Regions from separate parts of the Homo sapiens genome. Here regions 2 and 3 are each linked to region 1. The links come from fine-mapping of genetic effects on gene expression. A gene starts in region 1. Each other region holds a variant in brackets. All regions are shown on one strand. Distances are from middle to middle. Region 1 holds the start of LRBA (LPS responsive beige-like anchor protein). Region 2 has its middle 26 kb from the start of RPS3A. Region 3 overlaps LRBA (LPS responsive beige-like anchor protein).

Evidence for each region.
Region 2: its variant is fine-mapped to the expression of LRBA in Th1 cells (Schmiedel 2018, PIP 0.95).
Region 3: its variant is fine-mapped to the expression of LRBA in whole blood (TOPMed, PIP above 0.99).

Annotation. Positions count from the first base shown.
Region 1 is chr4:151,012,303-151,018,061 of GRCh38, reverse strand. It overlaps LRBA (LPS responsive beige-like anchor protein), which reads left to right and starts at 2,778. Exons shown (of 57, transcript NM_001364905.1): 1 at 2,778-2,860; 2 at 3,201-3,635. The coding sequence starts at 3,420. RefSeq lists a silencer at 2,209-2,358 and enhancers at 1,910-2,507, 2,859-2,988, 3,169-3,348.
Region 2 is chr4:151,070,385-151,076,143 of GRCh38, reverse strand. No RefSeq gene overlaps it. Among named protein-coding and RNA genes, the nearest start is that of RPS3A, 26 kb to the left of the region's middle. The variant GTGTT/T (reference allele first, on the strand shown) is at 2,285.
Region 3 is chr4:150,262,434-150,268,192 of GRCh38, reverse strand. LRBA (LPS responsive beige-like anchor protein) reads left to right here. Exons shown (of 57, transcript NM_001364905.1): 57 at 2,381-3,758. The coding sequence ends at 2,471. Among named protein-coding and RNA genes, the nearest start is that of DCLK2, 190 kb to the right of the region's middle. The variant TTTTGTTGG/G (reference allele first, on the strand shown) is at 3,274.

The DNA.
Region 1 (5,759 bases):
GACAGATATATTAACACACCATTTGCCCCATCTGAGGAGACAAACTCCGATGAGAGGCCTTTTAGGATTAATGCCTCACTTTAGAAATACGGATGTGTGAAAGGTCAAGTGAAAGTTGTGTCTCTTCTGCAGGCACACCCTACTCCCCCTTATTCCAGAGTTATTCATTAATGATGTGAAACAAACTTGAGGTGTTTAGTTTTTCAGAGATTTCAGAAATGGGAAGCCACTGATGTCGCCTTTTACTTTGGAAATGTGTTGGCAATTCGGATCATCAGAAAGATGTCTGCTTCATCTCTGGAATATCTAAGTCTACTTACAGAAAACAAATCTTTAACAAACATTTGCAACCACATGAGATTTGGTGCAGTTGAATTCATTTTAGTATTTTTAAAACGTGTAACACTTTTCTAAAGAAAATATCCCCTTGCTTGTTCTTCTGCTTCTTTTTTAAAAAAATAGAGACCTTGGTCGGGTACGGTGGCTCACACCTGTAATCTCAGCACTTCGGGAGGCTGAGACGGGCAGATCACCTAAGGTCAGGAGTTTGAGACCAGCCTGGCCAACATGGTGAAACCCCACCTCTACCAAAAATACAAAAATTAGGCGGGCTTGTAATAAAAATAAAAAAAATTAGCGCATGCCTGTAATCCCAGCTACTTGGGAGGCTGAGGCAGGAGAATCGCTGGAGCCCGGGAGGCAGAGGTTAAGGTGAGCCGAGATTGCGCCATTGCACTCCAGCCTGGGCAACAAGAGCGAAACTCCGTTTAAAAAAAAAAAAAAAAAAAGAGCACGGGTCTTGCTGTTGCCTAGGCTAGTCTCAAGTGATCCTCCTGCACTAGCCTCCTAAAGTGTTGGGATGACAGGTGTGAGCTACTACACCCAGCCCTCCCTTGCTTTTTGCGTCTGTTACCTTTTTCTTCCCAAATTTCCATGTGAGAGTTAAAATTGTCTTTTTTTTTTTTTTTTTTTGAGACAGAATCTCGCTCTTCCTCTGTCACCCAGGCTGGAGTGCAGTGGCAATTCTCCTGCCTCAGCCTCCCGAGTAGCTGGGATTACAGGCGCCTACCACCATGCCTGGCTAATTTTTGTATTTTTAGTAGAGACGGGGGTTTCACCATATTGGTCAGGCTGGTCTTGAACTCCTGACCTCAGGCAATCCATCTGCTTGGGCCTCCCAAAGTGCTGGGATTACAGGCGTGAGCCACCGCGCCCGGCTTCTGTCCACTTCTCAAGGCCATCTCAAATAACTTTTTCTTCAGGAAACTATTTCTCAAACCACTATAATTTTTTCCTAAGTTCTCTAGAATTCTTCCTTTGTTTAATCCCACTTTTTGCTTCACTTTCATTTTAGGAGCTAGGCGTATTTTTAAAAAGGCCCTTTGACCTCAAAGGATACACGTGGGTGAAAAACCACCTTCCTCTAAATTTATTTTTCACTCACTAGGAAGAATGGTTTACTGTTAATAGCGGGTGGAAAGAAGGGACACTGAGTATGAGGACCTATCTGTACTACCTAATATAATTTATCTTTTGATCTACTCTGAGAATGACGCGAGCCTAATCTTCACATTGGAAAATCACGAGAGGAAAAAACCCTTCGGAGGTCTACAGGCACAAGGAACCCTGTCTCCACGCTGTTTATAGCAGCTGTCTCAGGAATCCTCTGCCTAGAATGAATGTGGGAGAGGTTTCGTGGCGCGGCAGCTGCAAAGCAAGGAATCTTTCCCATTCCTCGTCGACTCGGTCCCCTCCCCTCCCCTCCCGAATGGCGGCAGCTGCCGAGGTATCCCAGTGGAAATCTCCAAGTCTCCGCCGAGAGCGGCGGGCGGGCAACAGCTGAAAGCAGCCAGGGGTGGGGACTCCTCGCTCCCATTGGGCAGGGACAGCAGCCTCACTGGCTCCAGCGCCGTCACCTCTCTGGCTCGTAGAGGTGCCTCAGGTGTTCTTCTCCAAGTCCAATGAGACACCTAGGCAACGCAGCGCGTGTTCCCTCCGCGCCAAGAGACCCTACGGTAACTTAACAACAGCAGGAGCGCCAAAATCCCCGCCTCAGGACTTGGCAGAAGCACCTCCCGAGGTCCGAGAGTGGGAGAGGGGAAAGTGTAGGCCCTCGGACGGAAGGGTCTCTCCTCGCCGGGCCGGGTACACACCTGGTGCTACCAGAGCAGCGCGCCTAGTGCAGCCGGAAGCCCCAGCCCAGCACTCCGGCTGGCTCGGGGCCCCCTTGGCTGTCCGCGCGTCGTCACCGCGCCCCCGCCGCGCGGCTGCCTCCGCCTTCGCGCCCTCCCGCCCCGCGCACTCGCGCTCGCGCACGCGCACGCCGCGCCCGGCAGCACTCGGCGCTGTCATGGCGGCCGGGAGCAGCTTCAGTGGGCACACGACAGCCGCGCGACCCGTGGCGGGGCGAGCTGTGGCAGTAGCATCCTCACCACTCGCAGCAGCCTCAGCCGCGGCGCCCGTAGCGCCAGCAGCGGCTGCTTTTGCAAAGGCTGAGCGCAGGGGCGGGGCGGGCCAGGAAGCCATGGAGTTCTGTGCAGCCGCGGACTCCCGGGGAGCGGACTAGGGAAACTTGGAGGCTGCGACCAGGTGCACTGACCTCTCTGTCCTCCCTTCTCTCCCTGCGGTGGCCGCTGGGTTTCTCTGGCCGCTCCCCTCCCTTCCTGCCACCACACACACCTCCCCACCCCTTCCCGTCGAATCTCAGGTGCCTGAGAGAGGTGCTTCACTCCTCCCACTGGGCCGAGCATTTAGAATAATCACCGCCCCCTTCCCCCGCCTTTTCCTGCCCTGGATCTCCGCCGCCACCTCGGTCTCGCTGCTCCTGGGCGGGGGGTGAGGACGAGTCCGGAGTATCTGGGTGAGGAAGAACTTTCTACCTCTGTGATAGCTTGTGGGCCCCCCTTCTTTCCTCCGATCCCTCCTTTCCCCGCGACAGTTTCTCTTTCTAGTGCACCTGTGAGGAGAGGTTACCCTGCGCCTAGAACCTGCACGAGAGTGGGGGAGGAGTGAGCCTGTTCGGGGGCCTCTTGGACCTGCCTTCACCCAGAACCCAGCTTTTTGAGCCCGGGAGAAGCGGGTGGCTAGTAGTGGGGTGCCTTTAGTAACTTACTTGACCGACAATAACTATTTCCCTCTTGTCCCCTCAAAACCCTAAAACAAAACCTAGCCTATTTAACATATATTTAATCTTCCAATAGGGTTTGGCGTTGTTGTCAGCCTCGGGGAGAGAGATTGGACAAATATTCTCCAAGAGGAGGAGGGCGACGCCAAGGACTTTCCACATCAACTGCTTTGGGGTATCTCCACAAGTTGGAAGAGGGACCCTTTCGTTTTGCATTGCGTGTGTTGTGCTCATTACCAGTGCAGCGACTGCCGTCCCAGGGTGACTCTGAGTTGTCCTTTATCGTGAGCTAGCAATGGCTAGCGAAGACAATCGTGTCCCTTCCCCGCCACCAACAGGTGATGACGGGGGAGGTGGAGGGAGAGAAGAAACCCCTACTGAAGGGGGTGCATTGTCTCTGAAACCAGGGCTCCCCATCAGGGGCATCAGAATGAAATTTGCCGTGTTGACCGGTTTGGTTGAAGTTGGAGAAGTATCCAATAGGGATATTGTAGAAACTGTCTTTAACCTGGTAAGTCCATGAATATTTTATAAGCATATACTCTTTTCAGTGGGTTGGGGAACAAGATCTTAAAGCTGGAGCCATGTGGTTTACTCACACTGATGGTGACTTTTTTCGTGTATAGGGACACAAAATTCTACTCACCTAAATGAAACAATTTCATCTGTTTTTTAGATTGAAGGGAATTGTGCAAACTTAGATGATCCAGGTTTTGTGAAAGTGAACACATCACTTTTGTGCTAAGGAAATAATTGTTGCTATGGAAGTATTGGGGGGAGGTTCTAGCGGAGGAGTTATCTCTAATTTTTTTTTTCTTGGCTTGTATGCCTAAGTCTGCGTTTCCCTTTACCACTTTAAATAATTTCTTGTGACCTTTTTTTGGACTTGAGAATTAATGTCTTTGATTCTGTCGAAGTTATGTTTTGCTACAATAAGTTTAAAAATTTGTTTGTAGTGCTGATGCAAGATTAATTTGCTGCAAAGTTAGTATTTTTAATTTTGACTAGTTTTATTTTTAGACATAACTAACAAAAGTTAAATTGGTGATGAATTTAGGATTGCATTTAAAGTAATCTTGTGAAAATTGAATGGCAATATGAAAAAAGGAATTGAAGCAGATACAGTATAATTTTTATGTGTTTTATAAATTCATGTCTAGCAGGAAAGCATAGTTAGTCATTGGAAGTTGCTGATTATACTAAGATGAGCTATGAATGCTTTTTTTCGGGTGGGGGTGGGAGGGGGATGAGGCCTCTCTATGTTGCCCAGGCTGTTCTCAAACTCCTAAGTTCAAGCTATCCTCCTGCTTCAGTCTTATGAGTAGTTGTGGCTATAGGCATGCATCACTGTATAGGGCTTAAATTGTTTTTAAATTGAGGTATAATTCATATATTATACAATTCTACCTTTAATTAATTCATTAACTTATTTATTTAGAGATGAGGTCTCACTCTGTTGCCTAGGCTAGTTTTGAATTCCTGGGTTCAGGCGATTCTCCCCTCTTGTCTCCTAAGTAGCTGGAACTACTGGCATGCGCCATTGTGCCTGGCTTGGTTATCATTTATAATGGAGACTTTTTAGATTTCTTTATTCCAGCCTCTCTTGCCCATCAACTTAAAGAATCAAAAGGAAATCTGGCCCTAAAATACTTCCCCCTTTTCTACCTACCCACCTGTGTTAGAGGATAACAGGACCAAATATAAACATGCAGTTAATTGTAATAACTGTTTAGCACCTTTCCCTTTGCCTCTTTTCAAGGTTAGGCTTGTTTTATTCTGGGGCAGTTAATTATTTCTTTCACTAGACCTTCTCTAATGGTCTGGTCACCTGCAGTACAACTTCTAGAATAAGAAAGTAGCTAGATGGAATTCTGGCCGGGCGTGGTGACTCACGCCTGTAATCCCAGCACCTCAGGAAGCCGAGGCGGGCACATCACTTGAGGTTAGGAGTTTGAGACTGGCCTAGTCAACATGGTGAAACCCCATCTCTACTAAAAATACAAAAAAATTAGCTGGATGCGCTTGCTTGTACCCAGGAGGTGGAGGTTGCTGTGAGCCGAGATCGTGCCAATGCACTCCAGCCTGGGTGGCAGAGTGAGAGACTGTTTCAAAAAAAAAAAAAAAAAAAAGAAATTCACTTACTTTTGAAGAATGAAAGCTTTGAACAATTGGATATTTCTATGTCAGTTTATTGGGAGTTTATGTATAAACACCTATAGACACACACATGCATATTTTAAAAAACTGCATATTATGGAAATGTTCAAATATATGCAAAAATAGAATAGTATAATGAACTCTGGTATCCGTTGTGCAGCTTCAACAGTTGTCAACATTTTGGGGATCTTGTGTGTGCGCATGTGTGTGGGGCTTTCATATGTAAGTCTGAGGAAGATAAATGGTAAATTGATTGCTTTACCTCAAAATAGACTTGAAACATTTCCTTTCTGATTTTTTGTTCTTTTTTAAAATGTCATATGCCTTCAGTGAGAAACAGAAATTTGTGGTAGTAATATAATCCATAATTACTTATTTGTGTGTGAAGACACAACATCTTTTGGCAGAAGGAGGATTTGAACTCCTGTTCTTTAGAATGTGCTGTGTTGGAGTGGATGACCAAACGTGAGTCATTTGC
Region 2 (5,759 bases), 58 kb before region 1:
GGCTATGAGGAGTCTTCCTAGTTTATTGAGAAGTGAAGTGACAGATTCCAAACTGTGCTTTAGGAAAACCAACTGGCATCACAGGCTTGATTGGTGGGAGATGGACTGGAGTTTGCCCTTTTGTCTTCATTGATGCCCATTTCTCCTATAATCAGGTTTTCATTGTAACTGGAGTTGGCCGACCACAAGATCTGTAGCAGTGCTGGGCATAGTGGCTCATGACTGTAATCCCAGAATTTTGGATGGCTGAGAAGGGAGGATCACTTGACCTCAGGAGTTTGAAACCAGCCTGGGCAACATAGTGAGATCCCATCTCTATTTAAAAAAAAAATCTGTAGCACTGTCCTTCCGGATACAGGTATATCTAGAGCTTCCCCAAAGGGAGATACCAGACCAGACTGAGTGCAGTGGCTTACACTTCAAATCTCAACACTTTGGCATTTGGCAGCCTGAGGTAGGAGGATTGCTTGAGCCCATGAATTCGAGACCAGGCAGGGCAGCATAGGGACACCAAGTCTCTATAAAAAAAATTTTTTTTTTTTGAGACAGAGTCTTGCTCTGTCGCCCATGCTGGAGTGCAGTGGCACGATCTCGGCTCACTGCAAGCTCCGCCTCCCGGGTTCACACCATTCTCCTGCCTCAGCCTCCCGAGTAGCTGGGACTACAGGCGCCCACCAACAGGCCCGGCTAATTTTTTGTATTTTTAGTAGAGACGGGGTTTCACCGTGTTAGCCAGGATGGTTTCGATCTCCTGACCTCTTGTTCCGCCCGTCTCAGCCTCCCAAAGTGCTGGGATTACAGGCGTGAGCCACTGCGCCTGGCCAAAAAATTTTTTTTGAATTAGCTGGATGTGGTGGCCCATGCCTATAGTCCCAACTACTCAGGAGGCTGAGGCAGGAAGATCACTTTAGTCTAAGAGGCTGCAATGAGCTATGATCACGCCACTGCACTCCAGCCTGGGAAAAAGAACCAGACCCTGTTTCCAAAAAAAAAAGATATCAGACCAGGAAATATTGGGTAGTCTAAAACTGTTTTGTTTTTTTTTTTTTTGGTTTGAGACAGGCTGGAGTGCAGTGGCACAATCAGGGCCCACTGCAGCCTTAACCTCCCTGGGCTCAAGTGATCCTCCCATCTCAGCCTTCCAAGCAGCTGGGACTACAGGTGTGCACCACCACACCCAGATAATTTTTGTATTTCTTGTAGAGACAGGAGTCTCATTATGGTGCCCAGGCTTGCCTTGAACTCCTGGGCTCAAGTGATCCACCTGCCTCAGCCTCCCAAAGTGCTAGTATTACAGGTGTGAGCCACCATGGCCAGCCTTAAAACATTTTTTTGTTAAGGAAGGCATTTACAATGTTTGCTTTCTTAGCATGTATTCATCTGACCTAAGATAAACAGCAGCTGTCATTTATTGATCATTTGCTAAGTGAATTATATGTACTATGTATATATAGCTCACAATCATTTTTACAACCCTGTAAAGTATTGCTTCTGTCCATCTTACAGATGAGTAAGCTGAGGTTCAGAACAATTAAGAAACTTGCTCTTAAGCTTAAGGGGAGTTGAACTTTGCTCCTGACTCCAAAGCTTGTGTGCTCTTAAGAAGAAAATAGAAAAGAAAGTTGGAATTGAGAAGTATGGTGTTTATGCTGCTCTAATCATACCTCTAAGCCATCTGAACTTATCATGGTCTTCTTTGTGATAATCTGAACCTACCTTAAAGTTTAAAAGTAAAACACAGGACACCAAAGATAGGGGTTAAGCAGCTCAGTCACTTCTCACGATTGCCCATATAGACAATCTCCTTCCCTCCTCTTCCTGCTATGGAAGAGCAGGATTTGTATTAATGGAGCCAGGCATTTGGCAGGCTCCATTTAACCTAGAATAATGTTTTTCAAATTGCAAGTCAGACCTATTAGTGGGTCATGAAATCAAGTTAGTGGATGTGAATCAGTACTTATTTTTTGTTTGTTTGTTTTTGAGACAGAGTCTTGCCAGGCTGAATTGTAGTAGCTATTCACAAGTACCATTATAGCTTATCGTACACTGTGGCCTCGAGCTTCTGGCCTCAAGTGATCCTCCCATCTTAGCCTCCCAAGTAGCTCATACTACAAGCACGCATCACTCAGCTAGCACTTGTTTTTAAATCAAATAAAATTGAAAACTATTGCATCCTTGGAAAGTGCAATTGTCGTTTTGTTAGCTTCTGTTTCAGTTTTTAAAAACATAACTCTGTGTGTGTGTGCCTGTGTGCGTGTGTGTGTGTGTGTGTGTGTGTGTGTGT[GTGTT/T]AAGTCACCATGTAAAATGTATTTCTTATTGTGGTTTATGATCAGAGAGGTTTGGAAACCATTGCTACAGGTATATATCGAATGAAATCAATTAGCTAAAGTCACACTTATCAAGGGAAAAAAATTGGGTCCTCATATTTTATTTATTTATTTATTTATTTATTTATTGAGATAGAGTTTTGCTCTTGTTGCCCAGGCTGGAGTGCAATGGTGCTATCTTGGCTCACTGCAACGTCTGCCTCCTGGGTTCAAGCGATTCTCCTGCCTCAGCTTCCCAAGTAGCTGGGACTACAGGTGCATGCCACCACACCCAGCTAATTTTGTATTTTTAGTAGAGACGGGATTTCTCCATGTTGGTCAGGCTGGTCTCAAACTTCTGACCTCAGGTGATCTGCCCACCTCGGCCTCCCAAAGTGTTGAGATTACAGGCATGAGCCACCACGCCTGGCCAGGTCTTTATATTTCATTTTATTTTATTTTTTCAGAGACACAGTCTTGCTCTGTCACCCAGACTAGAATGCAGTGGCGTGACCTTGGCTCACTGCAATCTCCACCTCCCAGGTTCAAGCAATTCTCCTGCCTCAGTCTCCTGAGTAGCTGGGACTATAGGCGTGCGCCACCACACCTGGCTAATTTTTGTATTTTTAGTAGAGACGGGGTTTCACCATGTTAGCCTGGCTGATCTTGAACTCCTGACCTCAGACAATCAGCCTGCCTTGGCCTCCTAAAGGGCTGGGATTACAGGTGCAAGTCACCGTGCCCGGTGGGTCCTTATATTTTATTGTTTCTTTCACTTTAGAATTTGTACTCAGAGTTTGTGAAAAAATAAACTCCCTTACACAATTATTTTTGGTGCTTTCATTCAGGAATTTTGCACCGTTTAATAGTTCATAGCTCTGTCAACACTTTAGCATGGCCTTTGGCTTGGCCTGCCCAAGTAAAGACACAAATCCGCTAGTGAGTTTAGGTGCCTGGAAATAGTGATCTCTTGTGGGACTCAAACGTCTTTAACCTCTTGACTTCCTTCCAGAGTGATAGGTAGGCATGCCAATGGATGTACACTGTGACTTCATCCGAAAGATACCATTTGTAATCTCTCAATGAACGACTACTCATCACCCCTTAATTTCTTGGTTCTGTAGTCTTTTTATTATTATATATACATATTTTTTTTTTGAGATGGAGTCTCACTCTATCGCCCAGGCTGGAGTGCAATGGTGCGATCTTGGCTCACTGCAACATCCGCCTCCCAGGTTCAATAGATTCTCCTGCCTCAGCCTCCCGAGTAGCTGGGATTACAGGCACTTGCCACCACGCCTGGCTAACTTTTGTATTTTTAGTAGAGACAGGGTTTCACCCTGTTGGTAGGCTGGTCTCGAACTCCTGACCTCAGGTGATCTACCCTCCTCAGCCTCCCAAAGTGCTGGGACTATAGGTGTGAGCCACCATGCTGGGCTGGTCCTGTTTGTAGTCTTTATTATAAATTCAAATGTCATAATTTAACTACAACTTTAAAAGATTAACTTTGCAAATTTAACAGTGTAAATTTTTTTTACAAATTTAACTTTGTCACAATGCCCCCTCTGACACCCTCTGCCCCTTGAGTACAAGTAAGTATTTAAATAATTAAATAATTAATTCTGAATCTTAATCATACCAAATTACATGTGACTTTCTTCTGTGTATGCCATAGTTCATGTTCATTCATTTATCTCCCAGATAGTTTTTATCACTTTATAAATTTGGTTTACAAGCCAAGGACTCAGAAATCCATTTCCTTCTAGGTTATAGACAGTAGCATCTTAGGACTTCAGAGCTTGGAGAGGAAAAAAATAGAGTTAGAGACAGGTCTCACTCTGTTGCCCAGACTGGAGTGCAGTGGAGGGAACACATCTCACTGCAACCTTGACTTCTTGGGCTCAAGTGATTCCTCCTACCTCAGCCTCCTGAGCAGCTTGGACTACATGCCACCATGCTCAGCTAATTTTATTTTTCTTTTTTTGGTAGAGGAGGAGTCTCATCATGTTGCCTAGGCCGGTCTCAAACTCCTGGGCTCACTTGATCCTTCCGCTTTGGCCTCCCAAAGTGTGGGATTGTAGGCGTGAGCCACCATGCCTGGCCAAGAGTAGAGTTCTTTACCAAGACAGATGAGCAAAGAATATTAACTGACATCTCTAGTAATATCAGTCAGTAATTAATAAGTTACAGACAATTTAAGGGAAATTTAAGGAAACCCCAACAGAAGTAAAATTCAATTTTTTTTTTTTTTTTTGAGATGGAGTCTTGCTTTGTCACCCAGGTTGGAGTGCAGTGGCGTGATCTTGGCTCACTGCAACCTCCATCTCCTGGGTTCATGCAGTTCTCCTGCCTCAGCCTCCCGAGTAGCTGGGATTACAGGCATGTGCCACCATGCCTGGCTAATTTTTGTATTTTTAGTAGAGACAGGGTTTCACCATATTGGTCAGTATGGTCTGAACTCCTGACCTCAAGTGATGCACCCACCTCAGCCTCCCAAAGTGCTGGGATTACAGGCATGAGCCATCACACCTGGCCGATTTTATTGAGTATAAGTAGTTGACTCCCTGTCATTTATTCCACCTCAGATAACTAGTCTAATCCAATTCTGGTTATTCTACCATCTCCTTGGCAGTAATTCGTTTTAGAGTAGGAGTGTGGCCAACTGTGCAGGGTTCTTAGAAATACTTTCTTGTGGTCGGGTGCAGTGGCTCACACCTGTAATCCCAGCACTATAGGAAGCCGAGGTGGGTGGATCACTTGAGGTCAGGAGTTTGAGACCAGCCTGACCAACATGGAGAAACCCCGTCTCTACTAAAAATACAAAATTAGCCGGGCATGGTGGCACATGCCTGTAATTCCAGCTACTTGGGAGGCTGAGGCAGGAGAATTGCTTGAACCCAGGAGATGGAGGTTACGGTGAGCCAAGATTGTGCCATTGCACTCCAGCCTGGGCAACAAGAAGAAAACTCTGTCTCAAAAAAAAAAAAAAAAAGAAAAAAGAAGAAATTCTTTCTCACTCCTAAGAGTGCTCTTCTTCCTCTGCATATTGGCATGGCTGAGTTAAAAGAATTTCTGCAGTTATCTTGCTACTGCCTGAGGATAAAGCTGTTACCAAGAATGGGATAGGGTAAAGGGATGGATGAACCCTGGATCCTTCATGACATTGTAATACAACTGCATCAATCAACCCTGTCCTATCTCTGAGCTTCCTTGTTGTATGACATAGTAAATTTCCTCATTTGATTATTATTCATAGTGTGAGTGGGTTTTATTATTTACAACCAAACCATTCGAACTGATCTGCTGAACGTTAGTACCACTTGGTAACACTGATTTTCCCTAGATTCCGGTAAAATGCTTTCTTCAACTCATCCTGTATTTTCCACTATAGTTAGAGAACCCTCTGAAGAATACACATGGCTCCAAAATTTTAGAAACTCTACCAGGTACCCA
Region 3 (5,759 bases), 750 kb after region 1:
TCATCTAGGTTGCCCTATTTGTTGGTATACAGTTGTTTCTAATAGTCTCTCTGAACTCAGTTTCTGCCAAATCAGTAATGTCCCAACTTTTATTTCTGATTTTAGTAATTTGAGTCATTTTTTTTTTTTTTTTGAGATGGAGTCTCACTCTATCACCCAGGCTGGAGTGCAATGGTGCAATCTCAGCTCACTGCAACCTCTGCTTCCCAGGTTCAAGTGATTCTCCTGCCTCAGCCTTCCAAGTAGCTGGGATTACAGGTGCCCACTACCACGCCCAGTTAATTTTTGTATTTTTAGTAGAGACGAGGTTTCCCCGGGTTGGCCAGGCTGGTCTCGAACTCCTGACCCCAGGTGATCCACCCACCTTGGCCTCCCAAAGTGCTGGGATTACAGGCATGATCCACCATGCCCAGCCAAGTCATCTTAGTCTAGCTAGAGGTTTGTCAATTTTGTTATTTTTTCAAAGAACCAATTTTTGGGTTTTTTCCTATCAATCATTTTACTATTTTCTGCTTTATTTCTCTCTACTCTGTTCTTTATTATTTTCTTCCTTCTGCCTAGCCTGGGGTTTTGTCTGTTTTCTAGTTCCTTAAGAGGTAAAGTTAGGTTATTGATTTGAGATATTTTTAAATCTATGTGTTTACAGCTAAAAATTTCCATTTTAGCATTGCTTTTGCTGCATTTCATAAGTTTTGGCTTGTTGTATTTCCTTTTCATTTGTCTCAGTATTTTCTGATGTCTCTTATGTTGTTGTTTGTTTTTTTTGACTCATCATTTATTTACTTTCCACATATTTGTGAATTTTCTAGTTTACCTTCAGTTATTGGTACCTAGTTTCATTCTATTATGATCAGAAAAGCTACTTTGTGATTTTAATCTTTACTAAGTCATTAACACTTGTGGCCTAACATATGGTTTATCTTGGAGACTATTCCATGCGCACTGCAAAAAAATGTATATTCTATTGTTGTTGGGAAGGTGTTCTATATACGTGTGTCAGGTCCAGTTGGCTTATCGTATTGTTCAAGTGTCCTGTTTCCTTATCTTCCACCTGGTTGTTCCACCCATTATTGAAAGTGGGGTATTGACGTCTAAAACTATTACTGTAGAACCATTTCTCCCTTCAATTCTGTTAATATTTGCTCTTTGTATCTTGGGGGTCTGATGATAAATGCATATATAATTGTTATATTTCTGTGAATTTACCCTTTTCTCAGTGTAGTGTCCTTTGTCTCTTGTAACAGTTTTTGACTGAAAGACTATTTTGTCTGATATTAGTGTAAGCCACCTCAGCTCTCTTTGCTAGTACTTACACGGAATATCTTTTCCATCCTTTCACTTTCAAGATGTTTGTCTTTAGATCTCAAGTGGGTCTCCTGTAGACAGCATATAGTTGGATCATGTTTTTTATCCATTCTGCCAATCTCTTCCTTTTGGCTGGAGAATTTAATCTCTTTAATGACTGATAAGGAAAGACTGACTTTTGCCACTTTTCTATTTAATTTTCTCTCTGCCTTAGAGTTTTGTCTCTCATTTCCTCCTTACTGTCTTCCTTTGTTTTTAGTTGATTTTTTTTGTAGTGACACATTTTAGTTCCTAATTAATTTTGATACGAGGTACTAGGAAGGATACTGAATATGGCTTCTAAGGGCTGGTCCTAACCAAACTACACAGAGAAAAATCTGGCTATGCTCAGTTTAGGTTCACCTATGTTCTCCATCTCTTTCCCTGCACCACCTCTTTGGGGACAGGAGACCAAGAAGCTTGCAGAAGTTCTTATCTTCAGTGATTTCGGTGAGTTACTGTGTTACGAGGACTAGGTCCTCACCCAGAGCATGATGGACATAGACTACTTCTCCACAGAGGGGAGACCAGCTTAAATTATGGTCAACAACACTCTTCTTTTTCACTCTTCATTGATTCTGTACCTGTCAGAGGTGGTGTCTCTTGTCACTTGAGTGTGTGCTGCTTCTTTCCACCAGCAGTTACTTTGAGATTGTGGTTCCTTCTTTTGAGTCTGTTGCTTATATAATGGATGGGTCTTGCCAGCCCAGTCCCCCTTTAGAAATTACCAAATCTGTTCAGATTTTAGTTACAAATCTGTTCAGATTTTAGTTACTCATCCTGCACATACCAGCTGTCCGTACCCTTTCAATGAAAAAGCAAGCTGTGGCTTGGATCCTTGTGGAGTGTCAGAGGCAGTACTCTGAGCTTACTCAGGGATACATTTTAGTCATGAAATACATACCTTAGTTCCCACAAATTGGAGCCTTCACTGCCAGCTTCTATATTTACCTTGTGGATTTGGGGAGAGCAGTTTTTAGTAACATCTCTAGGACACACAGGTTTGTAAAAGTCCTTCTCTCTGTGCTTCTCCTAGGTGCATCATTTCTGGCATGGCTTCAGGAAGCATTGTGCTATTTTACAACGACTTTAACCGGTGGCATCATGAATACCAAACCCGCTACTGATGGTGACAGCTGTACATCAACTCTGCCCCTAGGATGAGCAGAAGTACCTGGAGCATCATTCTCTTCTACCACATCTGAATGTAACTTAAATTTGCTCAAAGAAGCAAAATATTTTTTAAAGTTATTAATAATTGCTATTTTTGTAGTCTTTGCTTGACTTTTTTGGGGGGGATTAGCAAAGCAGAAAACTGGCTGCTGGGTTCTGTAGTTTTAAAAAATCTATATTTTTAGTCATAATGAGAAGTCTATTTTCACCAATTATGGAAACATACAGTGGAGCAAGTAAACCACTTATTCCAGCTATAATATTATGAAGAACATTTCCCATGCATCTACAAGCTTGAGAAATAGGATTTTCACAGTGGGGAAGTGGGTTACAATATTGGAATAGGAAAATTTGATGCTGTAATTTGGGTCCTGTATTTTTCCAAACAACTGTGCTTCTTCAGCACTAATATTTCTGGGATTTAAATAGTAATGTTTAAATTATGGTAAATGTAATTTAAAACATCTCAATTAAGTCTGTCTATCAATATTGTTCTTCAAGCATGTTTTAGACCTAGAAAAGTATGGTTTGGGGGAGGCTATTTTATTGTGTGGTTAGCACAAGGAATCTAATTTATAGCAAGTGTGAAATAGTTACCATTTTTTCCTGATCTGTCATCTTCATAGCACAACAAAACGAAATGATGGAAATGCTCTTGAGCTCACAACATTTGTTTTTCTTTTAAAGTAAATGCAAGTACCAAAGCTCACTACTGCGGTTTGCCTGTGCCTGGACAATGAGGCGGAGCCACTGTTG[TTTTGTTGG/G]GGCACCCCCTTCCCTCCCCGGGTTTGCAAATAGAGGCTACCGGGTGCTGTATTCAGCAACACCTGTTTTACTATTTGTTATTAAACTATCATCTCCACCTTCCTTTTGATTAGCAATTTGTACTAAGAAACGAAACAATGTTATTTGGTGGTGTATAATTCTACTTTTCTAGTAGATTACTGTGTGGAATTCTGTGAAAAATATTTGAGAAAAGGCCTGTATTGCATAAATAAATTCTTTGTATGTTGTGAACTTTGATCTCTATTTCTCTTGCAACAGACTTCAAGTGGTCCCTCTTTTTTTCCTACACACTCAGCTCTTCTCTAAAAGCAAGGATTTGGAATGAACAATTCAGTTTGACAGAAAAAGCTGAATAAAATGGCATCTGTAATTGAATTGTTGGAAATGCCTTTTTTGCTCCTAAATTTTAAACATCATTAATAAAATAATGATTCACAAAGAAAGAAAATGTCAAACTCTGATTCAGTCCTAGTTTTTGATCAATAACCAATGTGAGAGATCCTCCTGACTGAAAACAGGAAAATGAGCTTTCTTTGGCCAGATCTCTCCTCTTTCTTACTGAGACTCACACAAATGACCTAGACCTGAATCTTACAAATGCCTAGCAAGGAACTTTATGTACCACTTCATCTGAGATCCATCATTAAGAAAATAAATAGACGACGGTGAAATGTGGGGGAGGGAAAGTACATTTTAGAATCAAAGAAATACCCAAGTTGCTGATAAATTAATTAACTGATGAACATCTTCACTGTTTGTTTGTTAATGTCCTCATTAACTTGTGAATATTACTCTTTGAAAACTTCTTAAGTGAACAATGGTAAAAGAAAATACCAATACCTAAGTCGTGCCACACAAATGATACTTCAACCACCCTATGCTTAACAAGCCTAAAGCAAAGCTCCTCTTGAAACCTAAAAGGAAAAAAAAATCAGTATCTCCACTACCTTTATTGTTTTAAAAACTTACGACTAACGAAAATTAATTGAAACATAAGTTGGCCGGGTGCATTGGCTCACGCCTGTAATCCCAGCACTTTAGGAGGCCGAGGCAGGCGGATCACTTGAGGTCAGGAGTTCGAGACAAGCCTGGCTAACATGGGGAAACCCTGTCCCTACTAAAAATACAAAAAGTAGCCAGGCTTGGTGGTAGGCGCCTGTTAATCCCAGCTACTCAGGAGGCAGAGGCAGGAGAATTGCTTGAGCCTGGGAGGCGGAGGTTGCAGTGAACTCAGATTGTGCCACTGCACTCCAGCCTAGGCGACAGAGTGAGACTGCATCTCAAAAAATAATAATAATAATAATTAAAATTTAAAAAATAAATATTAAAAGAAACAATACTTCATGAAACAAATAAGGCTGGCATCAACACATGGGCTTCTTAATGACAGAATCTGTTCAGTAATAACATTTACAGTTTATTCAATATTTACTTATTCAATTTTAACTAACTCCTTAAAAAGGCTATTACTTTACATAAATGTAAGCCAGCTAAGAAAAAGCCAGCTAAGTGAAAGTAGAGGTGTTTTGGGGCTGGAAATAAGGGAACCACAACAGAGGGAGCAGTGCGTCTGCACAGTGAGTAGATGCGGCTGGATGGGCTGTGCTTGGTCCATGTACAGTAACTGAGGGCTGGTTTAAGATGCATTGCCTCCAGAAATTAAGATTTTCCTCCCTGACATACTGTTTCTTACTGAAATATAACCAATCAAGTCCCTGAGATGCTGTCATTTAAGAAATACCATTAGATCTGTGGGAGAAAGCAGGAGAGCTAAGAGACAACATGAACATCCGAAAAACATCGATAGAAACGTGTAGACAACACACTCTCAGATGACAGTGTCTTACTCCCAAAGTACACCAAAAATCAGTGTTTTCATAAATTACTTCAATAAAAGAGCTATTTTATCCATTGAGAAACATCACACCTCACTTCTGCTTAGCATACACAACAGGAAGATTCCAAGTGTCTTGCACAGGAATTACGAGTAGCCGTGAGCAGGGCATGAGGTCAGGAACTGACAACCCGGGGTCGCCCTTTCCACTCGCTCTAAGAGCAGCCGAGCCAGAGGGTCAGGGGCCAACCACACACTTGGTGTCACATGTCCTCCTACACCTGTCAGAGGGACAGTGAGATGGCAGTGGTTGTGTGAGTCAAGCTTGCAGGAGATGGTCAGGGAACCTGGGATGTAGCCACTGCACCTACTTTGTACCCTTCTTAGCAAATACAACAGCTTGCAGCAGCTTAGATTCACCATGAAAGGTGGTTGAGGTAGAGATTTTCAGTAGGTTTCTTTGGTATCTTGTTACTGGCTGTGATCTCAAGAGCTTCCAGCCATGCAAATAAAAGGCCTGGTTTAGTCCTTTCTAATGTGACAGTCCTGCCCCATTCTCCATCCCTGCTAAAAAAGGCAGCTGACCCATGATATAAACAGATTCCTCCTGGATCCAGATGCA